2 linked regions of the Homo sapiens genome follow. The protein of the gene in region 2 purifies or fractionates together with the protein of the main gene of each other region. This does not show direct contact. Each region holds a gene or a part of one and is shown on either strand. Other genes may lie near its edges.

Evidence for each region. Proteins that work in one complex are often made in the same cells at the same time.
Region 1: the proteins of NUDT6 (region 2) and PM20D2 purify together in Homo sapiens (affinity purification with mass spectrometry; 2 studies listed by BioGRID and IntAct, with this or other methods). This does not show direct contact.

What each region holds. Positions count from the first base shown.
Region 1 is NC_000006.12:89,152,546-89,156,206, reverse strand, and holds part of PM20D2 (xaa-Arg dipeptidase), read right to left. Parts: intron 3,165-3,661; coding exon 3,022-3,164; exon of another isoform or gene 3,018-3,021; intron 1,460-3,017; coding exon 1,305-1,459; intron 1-1,304. UniProt on the Homo sapiens protein: Catalyzes the peptide bond hydrolysis in dipeptides having basic amino acids lysine, ornithine or arginine at C-terminus. Postulated to function in a metabolite repair mechanism by eliminating alternate dipeptide by-products formed during carnosine synthesis.
Region 2 is NC_000004.12:122,916,006-122,919,666, forward strand, and holds part of NUDT6 (nucleoside diphosphate-linked moiety X motif 6), read right to left. Parts: intron 1,700-3,661; coding exon 1,496-1,699; intron 1-1,495. UniProt on the Homo sapiens protein: May contribute to the regulation of cell proliferation.

The DNA of each region.
Region 1 (3,661 bases), on a different chromosome or scaffold from region 2:
TTTATAGTTCAAATCAACAAAACCAGTCAGTGTGGTGGCTCACACCTGTAATTCCAGCACTTTGGGAGGCTGAGGTGGGTGGATCACAAGGTCAGGAGTTCGAGACCAGCCTGGCCAACATGATGAAACCTCGTCTCTACTAAAGATACAAAAAAATAGCTGGGTGTGGAGGCAGGCGCCTGTAATCCCAGCTACTCAGGAGGCTGAGGCAGGAGAATTGTTTGAACCTGGGAGGCAGAGGTTGCAGTGAGCTGAGATTGCGCCATTGCACTCCAGCCTGGGTGACAGGGCAAGACTCCGCCTCAAAAAAAAAAAAGAAAAAAAAAAATTAGCCAGGTGTGGTGGCAAGCGCCTGTAGTCCCAGCTACTTGGAAGGCTGAGGCATAAGAATCGCTTGAACCCAGGAGGCAGAGGAGGTTGCGTTGAGCCAAAATTGCACCACTGCGCTCCAGCCTGGGCAATAGAGCAAGACTTTGTCTCAAAAACAAACAAACAAACAGAAACAAATCAATAAAACCTCTTAACTAACTTCTGTGTCTATTTTATCTTCCATTCCAGCAAGCCATAGTATTTATATCACTACTATACACACCCTAACTTCAGAAATGGCTTTCGCTGGCTGGGCGAGGTGGTTCATGCCTATAATCCCAGCACTTTAGAAGGCCGAGGTGGGTGGATCACTTGAGCTCAGGAGTTTGAGACCAGCCTGGGCAACATGGTGAGACCCTGTCTCCAGAAAAACATACAAAAAATTAGCCACGTGTGGTGGTGCGTGCCTGTAGTCCCAGCTACTCAGCTGGCTGAGGTGGGAGGCAGAGGTGAGAGGATTGCTTCAGCCTGGAAGGCGGAGGTTGTAGTGAGCCAAGATCGTGCCGCTGCAACTCCAGCCTGGGCAATAGAGCAACACCCTGTCCCCCCACCAAAAAAAAAAAAAAAAAAAAAAAAAAAGCTTTTGCTGATTTTGCCATAAACTTTCCTTTATAGAAACTACATATAGCAATTCTAAAAGTATAACTGCCGACAAGGAAGAATATAACTTGTAAAAAGGCAGGGATTCTAGCATAGAAGTATCAGAATTATTCTAATTACTATATAAGTAAGATGACCTGTCATCTTCCCTATTGCAAGCACTGAGGAATGAAACGTGTAAAAATTAAAGACTTTCACATTAACTATTCAGCCAATTCATTTTGCATATTCAACATGTCACCAAATAAGAGAGTCAAGTTAGATTTCAATCTAACAGTGCTAGCCCACATATATACCTCTGATTGTAACTTAGATTAACTTTTAAAAGTTCTTACTGTGCACCCTGAAGCCAAAGCTGCAGCTCTGAAGCAATCTTCTGCCTTTTTGGTCAAAACTTGAAGTTCTTTCATTGAGGGTGCACGGAAGTAATAGATTAATTCAGAATAAGAGGGAATGATATTGGGTTTTACACCACCATTTTTTATTATACCTATAAAAAGAACCAAATTACTAGAATTAAGCTTGGTGACCATTTCTTTAAGCTTAAATACACCCATTAAGTTTTTCAGCCAATATGTTCATAAAGAAAAATAATTTAAACTCACTAGCTCCACCAATACACCAATCAAAGATTTTGTTATGTTGTACAACTGAAATTTCTTTACATAGGGTGATATTTTTTGGCTGATAAGAAAAAATAATTATCCATATGCACTTCATTCAGAAGAATTTACATAATGTTAAGAAATTATGATCCAGACTATAATGAAACTTAGAAATTATATAACCACAAAAAAAATTAGTAACATCTTAAGCTTTCTGGAAAAGATTTTACCATACCTCAACAATGGTATGAGGTTCTATAATTACCCTCATACCTCAGGAATCCCATGAGCATTTTAAATGGCATTTAGCTATAGGAAAAATAATTTTCATGCCAAGAAAAAAACCAATGCAGGTCAAAGATCACTAAGTATTATCAACTGTCAAAACAAATGTATTTATTTGGAATTATAAAGAATTAAGATTTATTCATTCGAAGTAATAACTAAAATAGATACAAAAAATCCAATGTCCTATGACCTACTTTAAAAAAATATTTCTACACATTCCTGTTTGTTCCTTTTAAAGAAACTAAAGCAGGAAAACTGGTAAAAGTACAATTACAAATTGACCTCAGGCTATAGCAAAATCAGGTAAAGAATAGATATTAAAATATAACAATTTCCTAAATCATAAGGAAATAAATTAAACAAATGTGTGCCTTCAAGACAGTACTTTGACTGTATTTATATTATGGTGATATATATATATAATTTTAAAAGACACTATTCAGGACCAGGCATGGTGGCTCACACCTGTAATCCCAGCACTTTGGGAGGCTGAGGTGGGCAGATCACTTAAGGCCAGGAGTTTGAGACCAGCCTGGCCAACATAGCAAGACCCCGTCTCTGCAAAAAATACAAATATTAGCTGGGTTTGGTGGTGTCTGCCTGCCTGTAATCCCAGCTATTTGGGAGGCTGAAGCAGGAGCATCACTTGAACCCAGGAAGCAGAAGTTGCAGTGAGCCGAGATTGCACCACTGCACTCCAGCCTGGGCAATAGAGCAAGACTGTCTCAAAAACAAAAAATCACACAAAAAGATATTACTCAGGACTAACAGCACTTAAATAAAACTAGCAGTTATTATACCTTTTTTTAATTGACAAAATTTGGTTATCATTAAGAAATAATGAGGACAACTGGAAAATCAAGATCCAATTTTCAAACACCCACCGAAAGAACACAGCCCCTTACATAAAACCTTTATCTTTGATACTCAAAGATGACATTCCATTTATGTACAATAATCAAAACTGTCTTTCTAACCCTATATAGACAAACATCTTAGTATCCTGTCACATGAATTTCTGAAAATATGCTTAAAAATCAGAATATTCATATGAAGTACAAAAATATTTCCAAATTTTTAAAAATTGAATATTAAATAATTATACTGCACTGAACTATAGCAAGCACCATCTATTATAGAAGGTATTTGACATTCATACCATGAACTCTCCAGGTTGGTTTCATTTGCTGTCTGAACACAGACAGATTGTTATAGGCCAGCACAGCAGCATCTAATGCATTTAATCCTTCCCAGGGATAAGAAGCAGAATGAGATGCTTTTCCATAGTATTTCACAGTCACACTAGGAAATAAAAAATCATTTGAAATTACTTTTGTTATTATTGCTAAAGTAAGAAAATCCAGGTAGTCAGAATTACCCAACTACTATTCAAAATTAATTCACATTGCTGGACTTTTGATTTGCAAATTATTTGTAGTAATAACACTGCAATTTATTTATGTTAGTTATAGTTTATTATTAGGTAACATAGTGCTTGACACAAAGAAAGCATTCCCAAAAAAGAGAGAAAAAGAGAAAAGATTAAATGTATACACAATCTAATGCAAACATGCAATATGGTATCAGGTGCTGAAATTACAAAAAAAAAAAATGGATCCTGTATGTTTTTACACAGCATTGTGATGATTCTATTATCAAAAGTCTGTAAAAAATCAGAAATTCTGTCTTAAGAGGTGGAAGGTCAGGAAAGCCAGAAAGGAGTTACTATTTGAAGTGGGTTAAGACAACCTCTGAAAATCAGATTATATTCAATGTTATCACAAGATACCCTAGTATTA
Region 2 (3,661 bases):
ATATGCTTCATTGCTTTCATTTATTAAGGTCATAAGGATCCCTTACTATTATAGTTTTTCTAGAAATCTAAGAATTTTGGTCCTTAAAGGGTAGTACTGAGACCACCACCAGCAGCAGCAGCAGCAGCAAAAACAGAAACAGCCAGGAAGATCACCTGAATTTTCAGGTCCCACCATAGACCTACTGAATCAGAAACTCTGGGGATAGGGCCCAGCAATCTGTTTTAAGATTCCAGGTGATTTTGATGCAATCTACAATGTGAGAATCTGTGTCTTACTCTGAGGGAAGTCTTCTCTCAACTTTCCTATGTCTCTGAAGCTAATCAGCCACTTCAAAATTCTACTCTACACTTAAATTACACGATTTTAAACAACTGTTTGGCACAATAATGTAAATATTATTAAGAAGTAATTGTTCAAATCATTGAAAAATTGGTTTGCTTTACCTGAAATTCAACATAAAAATGATCATTTACTTTACAAATTTACATAATTAGTGCCAACATGTTTTACTCTGCAATAAATTTATTCCCTGATCCCAATTCAGTGCTACTATTTGAGTAGTGAAGTTTAATTATATGTGTAAAATATATTCAAGCATATCCTTTGGAAAACTAAACACTAAAGTTGTTCTCTGTGCGTCTGTCTACTGATTGAGGCAAACTTCATCTATTTAAAAGCACTATGTAATAGTCCTATTTAAAAGCACTATGTAATAGATACTGTAGTCCCCCTTGTCCAGTTTTGCTTTCTGTGATTTCAGTTATACAAGGTCAACCATAGTCTCGAAGTGTTACATCACTACTCTTGTGCTTCGGGGCATTAATAAGGAAAATAAGGGTTATTTGAATCCAAGTACTGTGATACTGGGACAGCTGATCTGATAACAGGGAAGGCTACTAAGTAACTAATGGATAGGTAGCCTATGGATCATGGATACACTGGATATGGGGAAGATTCACGGCCTGGTGGGACAGAGCAGGATGGTGAGAGATTTCATCACATTACTCAGAACAGCATGCAATTTAAAACTTAAGAGTTTTTTTCTGGAATTTTCCATTTAGGTCATAATGCCTGTCATTCACCTCACTTCACCTCATCGTGCAGGTGAATACAAAAGGGTGAATACAAAACAATATTTTGAGAGAGACCACATTCACATAACTTTTATTACACTATACTTTTATAACTGTTCTAATTTATTGTTAGTTACTGTTAATCTCTTACTGTGCCTAACTTATAAGTTAAACTTTATCATAAATATGTGTGATAGGAAAAAACATGGTATATATACATAGGGTTTGGTACTATCTGCGGTTACAGGTGCCCACTGGGGGTCTTGGAACACATCCTGTGCAGATAGGGTGGAACCACCGTAATCATTTAATCAAATAACTCATTCCACATGAATAAACTATTTGCTTAGCTGTAACAAGCAAGAAATTGGGTGAACGTCTAAAAAGTTAATTCTGCTCATCATGAGTTTGAAACTGACCTGCAACTCCTACTTGATGTGAAGCATATCCTGGTAATCTGCTGGGCCCTTCTCTCAGCCACAGAGTCAACGTTGATGAATCCGATTCTGCGTGGTGAAAGCAGAAGCCCAGGGAAGCAGCAGGGGCAATAAATCGGCTTTGGAGGATGGGAATGTGCAGCCATACAGCTGTTCTACCTTCTGATCGCCATTGCTGTACTGCAGCTAAATGCAGAAGAAAAAAGTCTAAATAATTTCCAAAGAGACGAGTGGAATAAATTAAAACTCACCTCAGGGTTTCGCCTCCTCCAGGAAACCATCTTTAAGCAAAAGAGGTCCCCAAATGTCTTGTTCACATCGCTGGCACTGGAAGTACCATGTTTTATAGTAACCACCTTGTTTATATGATTTTTCCATCAGACTGAATTCCTTCAGAATAAAGTCATTACACTGCTGACCTTTATATCCATACCACCAAAGACAATGCTTGGCACGTAACAGATGTTCTGTAGTTTTAGAGTGGACAAATAAAAGGATTTAAACCGAATCAAATACCATTTGAATGCTGTTCCTTTTAACATCCTTAGGTTTAATCTTAAAGACAATTATGGACTTCTATTTTTTTCTTCCTTTAGGAGTTCTGTTATAATGTTTTTAATGTATAAATTTCAAGGTAGTTAAACTTTGTTTTTAAATAATGTATGCTGGTTGTAGAAATTTTGAAAATAAAAAATATGAAGAAATCAAACTTCACATTTTACTAGCATATAGGAATAAAATTCTAATTTTTCCTTATTATAGATAATATCATGGTGAACATAATTATAGGTTTTCTATCTTTGCCTTCTTTAAATTCTCTTTACTACTTAAGATTGAGCCAGGGGAAAAAGATGCTAATATCTATTTGAAACTTACTAAGTTCCAAGCACTTTATATATATTATCTCATTAAGTGCACAACCATGAAAGGTATTACTACCTTAAGTTTATGGGTGAAGAAATAAATACTTCAGATTTAGAGTTTTTAGAAAAGCTTTTCAGATCACTTTCTTCATCCATCATCTCACTTAATCTTTATAATAACGCTATAAAGCGTGTGTGTGTGTCTGTCTTTGGGGGTTGATTATATATCAAATAGTTAATTAACTTTCCCTTCTCTTTTCCCTAGCTCTGCAGGAAGCTCCTCTCTTTAAGGACAATGTTCTCTACCTCTTTGAAAGTTGCTGTGCCTAGCACAGTGACAGGCACATGGGGCCTTTAATAAAGACTTCCTGATTTGAGTTAGCATGCAGTGGAATTATGGGATCAGGTCCTTCTCACCTTGCTCTCTTTGTCTGATGACATCTTTTAAAAATTGAGGTAAAGTACATAAAGTGAAATGTACAAATCTTAAGTGTACATTTCATGCGATTTGACATATGCATATGCCCGTAACACACTTTAACATTATAGAACATTTCTATCACTCCATACATTTCACATGTGCTCCTTCCCAGGCAATCCTTCCAATCAAATTAAAAGGCTACTTTCTAAAAGCAATGCTATTTGCTTGCTGTTTTATATCTACACTCTGTGTCTTGGAGAATCCACTCTCACTGCTTCAGCTGATACATACATGAGGATGGCTGCCCAGCCCTGACCTCACTGAACACTAAACTTTCTGTTCTCCAGTTGCTCCCAGACATTTCCTGTCCTGAAGGTTACCACTTCAGACTTCACAAAGTGTGTTCAAAACTGAATCTTTTGTTGTTGTTGTTGAGACGGAGTCTTGCTCTGTCACCAGGATGGAGTGCAATGGTGCAATCTCGGCTCACTGCAACCTCTGCTTCCTAGGTTCAAGCGATTCTCCTGTCTCAGCCTCCCAAGTAGCTGGAATTACAGGTGCGTGCCACCATGCCCAGCTAAGTTTTGTATTTTTAGTAAAGACGGGGTTTCATCATATTGGCCAGGATGGTCTTGATCTCTTGACCTCGTGATCTGCCCGCCTCGGCCTCCCAAAGTGCTGGGATTATAGGCGTGACCCACCGCGCCTGGCCAAAACTGAATCTTACACCCCAAACTAGCTTCATTTATAAGCTTATTTATTTCTGGCACCAATGCTTGAAACCTTAGAATCATTTTTAAATTGCTTTCTTCTTTTCCCTAATAAGCTTTATTGCTTTTTCTTCCCTCACCTCCCATTCCCATT